Homo sapiens: one gene and its partner. The protein of the gene in region 1 interacts with the protein of each later gene in a biochemical or structural test. Each region holds a gene or a part of one and is shown on either strand. Other genes may lie near its edges.

Region 1 (7,034 bases):
CTCTTGGGAGCAAATTCCAACCAAATGATTTTTTCCAGAATGTCTCTAGACTCTGGGTTCTGGAGAAACAGAAACTCTAGACATGATTAGCCATCTTTTCTCTACTCTAGAAGACTACTATGTCACTGTATTTACATTGTTCCCTCTAAGCATTCTGTCTGCCAATTTTGAGCCTCCTAATGCAGGTATTTCAAACTGGAAAAAAGAAAATAAAAAACTAAAAGAAAAATAAGAAGTGCAAGGCAATAGGATTGTTGTTACCTGTGCTTAGATTACCTGAAAACTAGAGCCAGTGGATTCCATTTGACCTTAAATACCCTCTGCTATTGTAGCCTGTGCATGAAGAAAATGAACCATCCTAGCAAACCTTGCAGACCATGAGAGCAATTAGAGGTCACATAATCTGAGTGTTAACTAATTCTTCACTGAATGACTAGTAATGGATACCCCTCTTGGCCTTCCACTGAAAAATGAATCCAGACTTGTTTGTGGATGTTTTTATTCACTTCAATTAAATATTTCAAACCCAGAATTTATAAAGGAACCTAAATTTGAGGCTTACTGTGATTCTACCTTAACAATGCTGGATATTATTTCTTCTTCCTGAAACCATTCTTACCTGTGAAATACCCAGAACATAAATATGTAAATTTTCACTTTTCCCTCCATAGACAGATTGGAGGTATTAGATTTGAGACACTGATCATGTAAGGCCCAGTTTTATTCTTTGGAGAAATAATCTTTTTTATTTAAATGAAAAATAAAACTCAGCTGTCTATGAAGACAACATCTACTTGTCATAACTAAGTCCTAGTTAGAACAATCTATGGCTTTTCTTCCTAAGTTAACATTCCCAATTATTTTGAGACTTGAAGATTTAACTACTAACTGATCTCATTCAACATTCAGTTTCATTTTGCTCTTGTAAATACAACCATCATCTTGTCTGTTTCATGCTGTTTGGAGTAAGAGTCTGTCTAGGTTTTTAAGAATAGTGTTTACAATATATAGACAAGACTGAATCAAGCAACTCATATAATGGGAAACAGAAATTTGATTGAACATATTTCTACCAAGCAAAAAACTATTTCAATTCACATCTAATTCATGTATGACCCATAGATCCAGCCCTGGTAGTTTTTAGTTAGATATTTCTAATAAACTGTACTTCCTCAACATGCCAAAAGGTAATTTGCAGTAATAACATGTTGGCTGACAGACATAAACATTTTGGTCCTACTTCAAAGTTCATTAGTATCCCTCAAGCCACAGTGACAGATTAAGTAGATTTTGTTCATTTTTTAATGTTGATATCAATTTGTAGAAATGTCACTTGTAGAGACACTAATACATCTAAGATAAACTTTATTTAAGAAAATATAGTCAAATACCAAATATATTTAACTTTTATGTGTTTTAACTTCATACTAGTGTGTTCACTGTCTAATCTAATAACACATAAATGATATCTTTATAAGAAACATTACCTTTGGAACTACTTGTCCAGGTTTCATCATCATCAAAATGGGCATCTCCTCCATAATTTGGCCCAGGAGGAAAAGCATGAGCCAGCAGGCCAGAGGGCCCATCAAATGGGTAGAAGTCGCCATGCTCTACACACAAAAGCAAGGGTTAGGAGTCTTATCACATCCAGGAGTACTTAGCACAGGTGTTTGGTAAATTAGTGTTGAATTCTTTAAAAAGTAATGAATGACTGAAATAAATAATTTTAAAATGGAACCAAGAATTAGAATATAAAAATGTTTGTAAAATAAATGTGCATCATTACCCTTAATTCCAAAAGAGATCATGATGTCAGCAATGCCATCGTGAAGTCTGGTAAAATTCAGAGGAGTTACATCGGACCAAACTTTGAAGGCTTTTTTGAATGCCTTTTCGACTTCAGAATGAGTCATATCAGGGGTGTAATTCACAATTCTATTTAACAGAGAAAGTTTCAATGAACTTTTTGGAAAGTGACAGCTATTTTAGAATACATTTTCTTGGTATATTGCTTTTCAATTCAAAATGCAATAATTTCTTTGAAAGTTCTACTAGAGGTTTATTGTTTCAAATAATGTATTAATTATGATGCCATACAAGAATAAAAAGTCAAAAATTCAGCCACATTTGAGTATCTCCAAATATCTGACCATGTGGCATCTTAAATTTAAAATATTCCAATGTTTAATATAATTTATTTTGCATGCTAAAAGTTTAGATTACATTGATAAAGCTCAAATAAATGAAATAGCTCTGTAAAGTTTCTAGAAAGAGTGGAACTCTTCATCTTGAGCACTGTTGTAATAAATACACCTAATGTACTATGTTTGCAAATTTTCTTTAACCTACTTTTATTTCTCTTTTGATTTCATCTCTAAAAGAAATACTTTGAGATGCCCACTAAAAAATAATGCTGAGTTAATGTAACAATAATAGATGTTATGAGGTATTCTCGGCAACCATATTAAAGCTATTCTGGAATTTAACTGCCAATTAAATAATAAGGCCTACTTAATATTAGACATTTAATACTACAAGAAAAGGCTAACAAATATGAAAGAAAGATAGCCTATGATTTACCTGTAGGTTAAATTCATTTTGGACCATTTAAGAGTTCGAGGGAAAACATTGTATTCACCCACATCAGGAACCCCGCATCTTGGCTTTTTCATGACATCTAAGGTGTTATCGTCAAGTTTGCCAGTCACCTCTAAGCCGAAGAAAGACTGCATTTCTCGGAGCCTCTCAGTCATGGAGCTTGCTGCATTCTCCTTCAGGATTCCCGCGAGATTTGTAGGATGGTAGTATGATCTCAGGTAGCGCTAGAAAAGACACCAAAATGAACTGCGTTTAAAAGAGAAGGACATTTCTGAGATGTACCAACCGCATCATCAGGATTGGCAAGATACTCTACCTCTGCAAACTGGAGGTCTTCCTCAGACAAATCATCTTCATCACCACCACTGGGAAGGGGCAGGGCCCGACAATGAGTCCAGCTCAAGAAGAGGAAGGCAGCCAGGACCCCTGGATGCATCTTGAATGGTGATGCCTGGGGACTGTTGTCTTTCCGCAGAGATTACCTTTACTTTTATAGGCCTGCAATGGTGAGTCATCACTTATGGATAGGTTTCCACTTCCCAGTCACTTGAAGGTAAACATGCTTACGTGGCGACTTTTTCTTTTCCCTCCCGAGTGTGGTTTGTGGTAGAATTTGAGGGAAATATAAATGAGAGCATCTCTTGTTTCAGCAGGGTCTCAAAACCCATCTGGCAAAATAAACGGCCTCAGCATATTTATGGATACTGTGGGAAGAAGCAGAGAGTAGTACATTTTTTACTTCACTTAGCAAAATTTTTTTTTTTTTGCCTTCTGTAAGAACGTATCTACTTTTGCTTCTTCGAATAATAAGTGTATCAAGATGGCATGTTTACTTCCATAAAGAGAAACTTAGTACTGATTCTAGAATGTTTACTACTGCCTGGTAAATTATAAACTGCATTTTCTCTAGAATAACTACAGAGAGATGTCTTGTGTCTACCTGAAGTTCACGATATTGGACCAAAACCAAGCTTGATGACTTGGAGGTGCTACGGCACAACCGCAGGATTGAGCCCCATGGTTGGAATTTAAACACACTGGCATGACCTCTCGACAAATATGGAGTCCTGCATAAATTCCCTACAGATTCAGACAGAGGTAGAAGAATTACATTGGAACGGAACAACTGTAATGGCTAGCACAAACAGGGATTACTGCATTCTAGGTTTAAAAGGCATTATCTCATTTAATCCTTACAACAGCCACATAGGTGCTGTCAGAAAGCTTGTTTTCCATTTTACATATGAATAATCTGATACACTGAGAAGTTAAATACTTGTATACGGTCATATAGTTTATAAATGATACCAGGATTTGAACCTAGGCCAATAACTCAAAACTCAATGTTCTTGACCACCGTCCCTGTCTAATTATGACCTCCACCCTTTCCATTCTCAGATATTTTCTTAAAAGCTGAGCTGTTTGGTTCCTACACCTCAGGGAGTGCCCAAGAAAACTAGGGCTGCAGTAGGCCAATTTCAAGTTTCTCAATTTTTAAGTTTGAATAATAGAAGTAATCTTGGTCCAACCATCAGGAAAATAGTCCTAGGGGCCTCTACCCTATTATTCCTTTCAGAACATCACACATTCAGTACCGTGAAATCAAAGTGCCATCTTTGGTCCCCTGCAGAAGTAAATGGGTAGAGCAATATAGGCCATGATCTTTGGATTTATTGGACTTCTTTAAATAAATGATTGGAAATGCAGGTTAATTTGAGTGACTAAGAGTCAGAAAGAAAATGCTGCTCAGGTCAGGAACATAGTAAGACAAAGAGAAGGAGCATGAATACAGCTTTAGGGTGAGTACGAAATGGGTATCCTAACATATGAGTAAAATCCTATAATCTAGAGTAGCCAGTGCCTTAGAGAAAAATCAGAAAAGCCTACAACATGTATGTGATCATTTGAGGGAAATTTACTATATGCCTTTATCCAAACAAAATACAGCCAAATATACCCTTTCAAATAGATTGTTTCCAGTGAGTTCAAGATTAGATTGGTGCTCAATCAGGAATGCAAAGCAATAATTTATTTTAAGTTGCTTCCATGTATCATAATATTTAATTTTGAGATTAAGTGAAAAATTATCCAAAAAAGTTTGATTCATCGACTAAGCTTATAAAAGTTAGTTTATTAGAAAGCATTTGTTTTTACAAATAAATTTTCATAATATATTAAAATCTCATTAGATAAGAAGTGCTTAAGAAGCTGGAAAACAAATAACATTTTATTAAACATTTGAAAGTGGAGAAAAAGAATCAAATAGGCTAACTGTTCTTATAGATTTTCACATATTTGTAGAAATGTTACTACTTCAAACTAGAAGAAAAGAAGCTTTTTTATCTATCAATTTAATGAATATATTAATTGAGCATCAACCATATAGGATACCATGCTAGTGTCTATGGAAATGAAATGAAGGCTAAAATGAGGGCCTTTTTCTGAGGATCATTACAATATTACCTCCCCCATTAAAAAAAACATTTTTAATAACAAATGAAAATAAATACATGCCACTATTTTTCAACTTTAAAAATAAAGTTTATTATCAAACAACTTTAGTATTTTACTAGTTTCTCATTCCATTTAAGAACATAATCAGCGCAAAAGAAAAAACACAGAAAGGTTAATGAGAACATATTATTATATGTTCTGTAGTTTTCTTAAGTAGAAATAAATAAAAATTCCTCCAAAGATTAAAATACATTAATTCATTAAGAAAATAATCAGACTGCTCGTTTATAGAATATTGTTCAGGGAAAAGTGTTTTTAGATGGTGATAGGGATGTGTCATCACATCATAATGTGTTGGCAAACTGCTTGTCAACGCAAGTCCTTATATCAGGTTGTTAACTGTTAAAGTCAAGCCTTCTGGTTACCACTGTGAAATGATTTGTGGTTTCAGATGTCATCTTTAACACAATAGGGCTGAGCTGGTATTTAAAAATGGTTCTAACAAGTCTACCAAATCACTGGGAAATTTGAAAACCTGTAGAATGAACAAACAAAACTGGACTAAATTAGAATTATGTATTTACTGCTGATTCAGACATTAGCAATATGGGACTTTTTAAAACATAGGTCATCATCAGTTTTCAAGTTCAAAACGTCACCCAAACAGGAACGAAAAATGTCTATGAACAGCCAGATACTAAATCACAGAGGGGTCCCAGACTAGGAATAACATGAACAATTGGCCATTTGAGTTAGATTAAAATTATGAAAAATCTTTAAGTAAAAGAACGATTAAGATCAAGATTTTGGCTTCAGTTTAGAGTATAGTAAAAACTCATTGTCGATGACACTTAGCGGTGTGTTTATTTTTCTAAAATGTAAGTGATTTGACTCTGCAAGTGCACGAAGTAATAATTTTTTGTAAACACTCTCTGATGGTTGCTTAGTTCTACCTTCCGATTTCTCTTTTTTTTTCATAACCTCATGAGCTGGGCTTACATGGTCTTAAAAAGGAGAACTAGCTGGGCATAGGGCATGTCTATAGTCCCAGCTACTCAGGAGGCTGAGGTTGGAGGATTGCTTGAGCCCAGGGGTGAAGTTTGAGGACAGCCTAGGGCAGACAGGGAGGCGCCATTAAAAAAAAAAAAAAAGGAAAGCTAGATTTCTTCTAAATTTGAATTTAAACACTACTTTTGTGCAGTCATGGCATCATCCACAGGTGTGGAACAAAACAAAGAAGAGCTCATTTTACATGCTGTGGCTACAAAGCAAAGGTTGAGTAACTTAGGAGGTCATTTACTTTTAACATTTGAATGATATGCTCTTCAGAGATGCCATACTCATACTGGGTTGATCCACAAAAGTTACTAAAAGAATTTACAAGAAGTAAAATAAATTATTTTTGGTTCTTACTGGAGTATAACATCTGAAAGTCAAGTCCTAATTTCCTGGGCTCCCCTCCTAAAGAATTTTATTTTTTTGTGTGTTTGGTTGAAAAAGAGTGGTTACTGAATGTCCACCTTGGCCAGATTTAACCAAATACTCTAAGAGAAAACAACTGGGAATAGAACACACATTCTAGCCCAACCCTTCCCAAATGTCTTTGAAAAAGGAAAAATCTAGATTGCTTGGTAGTGAATAATAGAAATAAAAACAAGTTAGGAAAATGGAGAAATGCTTTAGTGGTTTTAACAACAAGCAATTTTATTACATTTAAAGATTCCTAATGTTTAAACAATGAGGCAAAGGTCTATTTTTAAACAACTTAGTCTCACCTTGTTACCTTAATTCACTAAAGTGGAAGCCATTACATATTTTTTAAAAAGCAGATTATCTGATAAAAAGCAATACACAAAAACAGAATGTAATGTTATTACATAATGTTTGGGAAATAAAAACTTTTCTCAGAAGAAAAAAATTATGTAACATCTCAAGATTTTTGAGATAATCTGCCTCCATACACACACACACACACACTA
Region 2 (7,000 bases), on another chromosome or scaffold:
TCCTCAGGGCGGTCTCTTCCCTATTCCCCAGGGCTCACCCTCCTGAGCCCTACTTTTCTCCCCTTCCCTTTTTCCTTTCGGTCCTTGGACAGACGCTGTCCCTGGTGCTGAACCGTTTGTGCTTTGCCTAGAATTTGAAACACAATCCATGGTACCGCCCACGGGGTTCTCAGAAGAGGAAGGTAAGGCATTGGAGGAAGAAGAGAAATATGAAGATGAAGAAGAGAAAGAGGAGGAAGAAGAAGAGGAGGAGGTGGAGGATGAGGCTCTGTGGGCATGGCCCAGCGAGCTCAGCAGCCCGGGCCCTGAGGCCTCTCTCCCCACTGAGCCAGCAGCCCAGGAGGAGTCACTCTCCCAGGCGCCAGCAAGGGCAGTCCTGCAGCCTGGTGCATCACCACTTCCTGATGGAGAGTCAGAAGCTTCCAGGCCTCCAAGGGTCCATGGACCACCTACTGAGACTCTGCCCACTCCCAGGGAGAGGAACCTAGCATCCCCATCACCTTCCACTCTGGTTGAGGCAAGAGAGGTGGGGGAGGCAACTGGTGGTCCTGAGCTATCTGGGGTCCCTCGAGGAGAGAGCGAGGAGACAGGAAGCTCCGAGGGTGCCCCTTCCCTGCTTCCAGCCACACGGGCCCCTGAGGGTACCAGGGAGCTGGAGGCCCCCTCTGAAGATAATTCTGGAAGAACTGCCCCAGCAGGGACCTCAGTGCAGGCCCAGCCAGTGCTGCCCACTGACAGCGCCAGCCGAGGTGGAGTGGCCGTGGTCCCCGCATCAGGTAATTCTGCCCAAGGCTCAACTGCCCTCTCTATCCTACTCCTTTTCTTCCCCCTGCAGCTCTGGGTCACCTGACCTGTAGTCCTTTAACCCACCATCATCCCAAACTCTCCTGTCCTTTGCCTTCATTCTCTTACCCACCTCTACCTATGGGTCTCCAATCTCGGATATCCACCTTGTGGGTATCTCAGCTCTCCGCGTCTTTACCCTGTGATCCCAGCCCCGCCACTGACCATCTGTGACCCTTCCCTGCCATTGGGCCCTCCACCTGTGGCTCACATCTCGCCAGCCCCACAGAGCATCCTCAGGCCTCTCCAAGGGTCCTCATCACCTATTGCAGCCTTCAGGGCTCGGCCTATTTTCCACTACTCCCTTCATCCGCCTGTGTGCCGTCCCCTTTAGCTGCCTCCTATTGATCTCAGGGAAGCCTGGGAGTCCCTTCTCACCCCTCAACCTCCGGAGTCCAGGAGAACCCGTACCCCCACAGAGCCTTAAGCAACTACTTCTGTGAAGTATTTTTTGACTGTTTCATGGAAAACAAGCCTTGGAAATAAATCTCTATTAAACCGCTTTGTAACCAAGCTCTGGTACCCTCTGTCTCCATCTCCTGCTGTCCACCTCTCTCATTCCATGGGTCTGTGTCATGGGGAGCACTTGGATGCTTCTTCTCTGGCTCCATGTCTCTCCCTGTCTCTGTGTGTGTCTTGGCCTCTCTTCCTTTTTCATTTTCGGCTTCTCCCCTTGTCTGTCCTGGCAGTCTAACAGCCCCTCATTGTTCCCCCAGCCTCTCCTTCTCAGGCCTGTCTACACTTTCCTTCCTGGCTGCTAAGATCCCAAAATTTGACTGTACACATTACCCCTGGAGAAGTCATCATCCATAGTCTGAGGCAGTGCTGGGAGTTGTAGTCCCTCACTCCTGATGAGGAGAAACCCCTGCAGCCCGGAGTGCATGTGTTGTGCATTTATATTCACTTCCAATCCATCTTGGTGGTGCCAAGGGTCATAGTAACTGAGGGAACTGAGGGTCTCTCAGCATAGAGGCAGTTCCCTGGCATTCAGTTGCCCTCACCCCCATCCCCTAGCCCTGCATCTCAGCAGGGGGTGGTATCTAACTCTCATCCCACTACCTACAACTTCCGTCTTCTCCACTAACTCCTGCACTAATGATCATTCCCTACTCTCCAGAAGGAATGGCTTCACCCTCCCCAGACCCAAAGGGTCTCAAAGTACCTAATGCTGGAGAAGACACTGATCAAAAGCAAGTGATGGAGAGTGTGAAGGAAGGAATCAGGTTCTGGGGTCTGAGAGAAGCCCTCTCTACTCAGGAAGGCTAAGATTCCCAGTGGAGGTTCCTGGAGAAGGCTGGGATTCCCTTAGCCCTAGGACCCCCATGTTAGATGGATCACATCCTGAGTCCCACCCAGGCTTACCCATGTCAACTGTTAGGTCCCTGCACAACTGGCCTTGGAGTTCAGCCCTGTGGGGGATAGGGAGGGGGTTTGGTGGGAAGAGGAGCACAATTGGAGGTATCTACAGTGTCTTAGTTTCCCCACCGGGAGGGTAAGTGAGAGGTCTCCTTGGCTGCTGTTTCAATGGAAAGAAAGGGAAAACTTTCTGGTTGTGTAGAATAGTTGTCCCCAAAAAGGGAGAGGGAAAATGACAAGAAGAAGAGTTCTTCACCCGACTCTGCCTGCGCTGGGTTCAGGTTCTGTAGCCCACAGCCAGGGGGAGGGGCCTATGGCTTGGGTAGGGGACCAAAGACCAAGTTTGAGAGCCTCTGTCCCCCAGGGTTGGAGGGTTGAATGGGAAGGAGCAGAAAGGACAACAGGAGGGACAGGAAAGTGTGAGGAGTGGGAGGGGAGTTCAGAATTCTACCCTCTGTGGGGCCTGGTGCTTAATGGGTTAAATGAAATACCTCTTCCTCTGGGGTTGGGAGGTGGGCAGCACCACAAGCTGGGAAGAAACTATTGGCAGGAGGGAAGATGACAGAAGGAGTGCTGCTGGAAAAGCTGATTCATTTCACCCAAAACAGCTAGGTCATCCCAGCAAAATTCTTTGAATCCACTCCAGCTTCTCCTCTCTCCACCCCTACTGATTCCCACCAGGCAGTGGGACCTGTGGCCAGGCCAGCGGGAAGCACTGTGGACCTTGGCCATGGCTTCTAGAGGTGGATGGTAAAGTCTGAAGGGTTCTGCCCTGGAGTGGTTTTGCCTCTCATGGCTGAGGGCCTTGACCTTACCATGGCTGAGGGCCATGACCTACACAGTTGGTCTGTGGAGCCATCTTCCTTTGGGTCATCTGAACCAGAAAGGATTGGAAACTGACAGCTCCTGTAGCACCCAAGCACATCCTAAGGACAGCCACCTCCTACCCCAGGATACAGAGAGAAAAAGTCCAGTAAAGCAGATGGCCTAGCCAGATGGAGCTAGATCCAGGCAACAGATTGCAGACCTTCAGGGCAGTGTGTTAGTCTAAGAGGACTGCCTGGAGGAGAGGGAGCCAGAAGGAGGGATTGAGATGGATTCTAGGTTGGAGAACCTGCAGAAGGCCCAAAGTGGAGTTGGGAGAGGGAGCCTGGTAAGTGGAAGAGTCTGTGGATATAAGAAGGGGAAGTGAGAGGTTGGGTGATATTGAGAGAAAGCTGCATGTGTGAGGCCAGTCAGCACTGCAGGACAATGGGAGCTGCTGCGACTTAGTTCCTAAGCTGGGGGAGAAGGGGCAGGGCCTAGAGTGAGGAAAGTGGGCTGGATCTCCACTAACCACTTCTGGGACTGGCTGACTGCCCAGTGGACAGCAGGAGGAATGGTTAGTATTCACCTGGACCACACCAATATCAGGTCTCAGGAGCAGTCAAGGGATACCACCCTCCACTGTTGCTGCGGTAATCCTTCTGTCCCCTCCTTCACTTCCATTCATTCCACCTGGACTATACAGAACTGTGCTGGGACCTGGCACAAAGACAAGGGGGTGTGGCACTAAACTCCAAGCCTAGAGAAGGAAAATGACCTGCCCAATATCACACAGAAGCCAGATAAGAGTTTAGAGCTATAACTTTCTGTGCCCAGTATCTTTCTCCATTGTGGGGCTGGGTTCTCAGGGCTCTCCTAGCCTCTTCTCCCCAGCCCCTTTTGGGCTGGGCTCACACTGGTGGCCATAACAATGGAAGGCTGAGCCAATGCTGAAGTCGGGAGCGGGAAGAGGAAAGAAACCCAGAACTCAGGGCTGGGTTGTGACCAGAGACAGGCTCTAGGGAGAACTTTTAGGGTGCTGTTATAGCTTCCAGGACAGAGAGACCAGGGCTGGGGGACCCTCTGCACCCTCTCCTGGAGGGCTCAGGCTGCAGAGTGCGGCTGCCTCGCTCCCCCCGCCTCACTTCTTTCCCCCTCTCAGGTGACTGTGTCCCCAGCCCCTGCCACAATGGTGGGACATGCTTGGAGGAGGAGGAAGGGGTCCGCTGCCTATGTCTGCCTGGCTATGGGGGGGACCTGTGCGATGTTGGTGAGTGTTGAGGGACGGGGGGCAGGTTTGAAGCCTGGACCCTGCCACAACGTGCTACTTCTGGAGGGGGGAGGGAGAACATTGGTTTTGGCCTTGTCATTAATGAGTCCCTGTTTTAGGCAAGTTGCATAACTTCTTTGAGTCCTACCCTCAATTTTCTTATCTAAGTGAAACCACAATGCCTCTCATAGGGGGTCCATTTGAGACCAGTGCAAAGCATACTCCTGGCATTTAATCGGTGGTCAATACATGACAGGCTCCATTCTCCTGGAGAGGAGAGCCACTGCTCGTTAGGATGGAGACCCAGGCCGGAACTCCATCCCTCACCCTGGTTCCTGTCTCTTAGAAAAGGCACCAGCGCCCCTGCCCAAGAGCCCCTCCAGGCTCCTGCTACCCCCTCATTCTCTACTAGCTCTTTTGCACCGCCCTCCTGTCCCCCTTAGTCCCGCCCCTCTCGGCCTGCGGTAGTGGAAGGAGACCAGCCCCTTCCAGGGGACCTGGCCCTCTGGGTTTTGGGGCCCTAAGATGCCCGCCCTTATGTGCCGCAGGCCTCCGCTTCTGCAACCCCGGCTGGGACGCCTTCCAGGGCGCCTGCTACAAGCACTTTTCCACACGAAGGAGCTGGGAGGAGGCAGAGACCCAGTGCCGGATGTACGGCGCGCATCTGGCCAGCATCAGCACACCCGAGGAACAGGACTTCATCAACAGTGGGCTGGGAGACAGGGCGGGAGGGGCCCCTGCCATATGCTCTCACTCTCTCTCACTCGCCTAACCGCCTTCCTCATTAACCCATGCACTTATTCCTTGGTTTTCTCAAGCGTGCATTCCCTCACTCATTCGTTCACTCCCCTTCTCATTCTCTCTCCCTTCCCACCCTACGCTTAGGCAGTGGCCTTCGGGAACGGAGAGTGGAGGTTCGCGCAGTAGAGTGCGCCTGTGTGGGCCGGGCCGCCGTGCAGGGGGCCGCCTCCAATCCCTCCAACCTCCCTGCTCTCCGACCTCCGTCGGCCTCCTCCAACTCCAACTCCAATCTTGTTGAAAGTTTTGACTCTTTTTCCAAAACTCCCCTTTTCTAGCCTGGGTTGATATCTTCCTTATTCTCCCACCCCCATTCCCCTGCTTTCCATCTGGCCCTTGAGCAGAGGCTGGGGTAGAAGAACCCGACAAGGGCGGGTGCTGGATCGCGGGGAAGGGTTTCCAAGGCAGTCACCGCAGACCGCCCGGGAGCGGGGAACGGCCGCCATCTGCTGGCGGCTGCGCTCACTGCACGCCTTCGTCTCCCTAGACCGGTACCGGGAGTACCAGTGGATCGGACTCAACGACAGGACCATCGAAGGCGACTTCTTGTGGTCGGATGGCGTCCCCCTGGTGAGAGGCCCCAGTCGAACCCCGCCGTCTAGCTCACTTCCTCTAAGCACTTCTGTTCCCTACCACCCCCACCCCTCCCGACCCTGTCCCCTTCTTTTTCCGGCCTCCTTCCCTTTCTCGTGCCCTGTGCCTCTTCTCCCTGGGCTCTCCTCCCTTCGTTGTGTCCTCTTTCTTCCCTTCTGGCTCCCATTCTCCCTCCCCTAAAGTCCCTGCCCTCTCCTTTCCCCTTCCCCGGGAGATCCCCTACCCCCTAGCCCTAACCTTCCCTCTCCTGGGGCCCCGCTCACCAGCCCTCCTCCCCAGATCCTCTAGGCCCTCTCCCGGTGCTCCTGGTGTAGGAGCTCCTCACCACCTCCTCCGTTCCCCCAGCTCTATGAGAACTGGAACCCTGGGCAGCCTGACAGCTACTTCCTGTCTGGAGAGAACTGCGTGGTCATGGTGTGGCATGATCAGGGACAATGGAGTGACGTGCCCTGCAACTACCACCTGTCCTACACCTGCAAGATGGGGCTGGGTGAGGGCAGGCAAAGGAGGGTCCCAGCAAGGAAGTGGAGGGGTGGGCTAGGGGACCAGAGGGACTGATGTTTGTAGACAGAGAGTGCAAAGCAACATAGAGGAGTCAGAACGTGTTCCAGACCATGGGAGAGCTAACAAGTTACGTGGGTCCACTCGGAATCCCTGATCTTTTTTTGTCATGTTGTGGCCCATTTTTCTCTTCCCCATGGAGATTCTGGGAACTGTCACCCACAGAGCCAGGCTCAGTTCCTAACTGTCTTCCTTTGCAGTGTCCTGTGGGCCGCCACCGGAGCTGCCCCTGGCTCAAGTGTTCGGCCGCCCACGGCTGCGCTATGAGGTGGACACTGTGCTTCGCTACCGGTGCCGGGAAGGACTGGCCCAGCGCAATCTGCCGCTGATCCGATGCCAAGAGAACGGTCGTTGGGAGGCCCCCCAGATCTCCTGTGTGCCCAGAAGACCTGTGAGTGCCAGGAAGAGGCAGGTGGGAGTGGGAGACAGTAGCCAACAGTAGCCTTGGACTCCACTTAAAGTCCTGCCTGTCACTGGCCATGTGACCTTGGAGCCATCACTGCCCCTCTCTGAGGCAAAGGGGAAGAGGTGGGCTGGAGGCTCTGGGGTTCCTTCAGTGCTGATGTCTGATAACATGCAGCCCCATTCTGGGCTCTTACGGGCTGAGCAAGAACATCAGAGGGCAGGCTCTGAGGAGAGGAGAAGGAAGAGCCAGGGTGGAGGGTGAGTGTGTGTCTTCCCCAGGCCCGAGCTCTGCACCCAGAGGAGGACCCAGAAGGACGTCAGGGGAGGCTACTGGGACGCTGGAAGGCGCTGTTGATCCCCCCTTCCAGC

Evidence for each region. The genes of interacting proteins can lie anywhere in the genome.
Region 2: of the proteins of MMP13 (region 1) and BCAN, one has a biochemical effect on the other in vitro, tested with the Homo sapiens proteins (one study listed by BioGRID).

The regions. Positions count from the first base shown.
Region 1 is NC_000011.10:102,952,669-102,959,702, forward strand, and holds the start of MMP13 (collagenase 3 preproprotein), read right to left. Parts: upstream 3,065-7,034; 5' UTR 3,038-3,064; coding exon 2,918-3,037; intron 2,826-2,917; coding exon 2,584-2,825; intron 1,939-2,583; coding exon 1,790-1,938; intron 1,614-1,789; coding exon 1,488-1,613; intron 1-1,487. UniProt on the Homo sapiens protein: Plays a role in the degradation of extracellular matrix proteins including fibrillar collagen, fibronectin, TNC and ACAN.
Region 2 is NC_000001.11:156,652,117-156,659,116, forward strand, and holds part of BCAN (brevican core protein isoform 1 precursor), read left to right. Parts: intron 1-131; coding exon 132-776; coding exon of another isoform or gene 777-850; exon of another isoform or gene 851-1,356; intron 1,357-4,165; coding exon 4,166-4,273; intron 4,274-4,821; coding exon 4,822-4,980; intron 4,981-5,558; coding exon 5,559-5,641; intron 5,642-6,010; coding exon 6,011-6,155; intron 6,156-6,426; coding exon 6,427-6,617; intron 6,618-6,910; coding exon 6,911-7,000. UniProt on the Homo sapiens protein: May play a role in the terminally differentiating and the adult nervous system during postnatal development. Could stabilize interactions between hyaluronan (HA) and brain proteoglycans.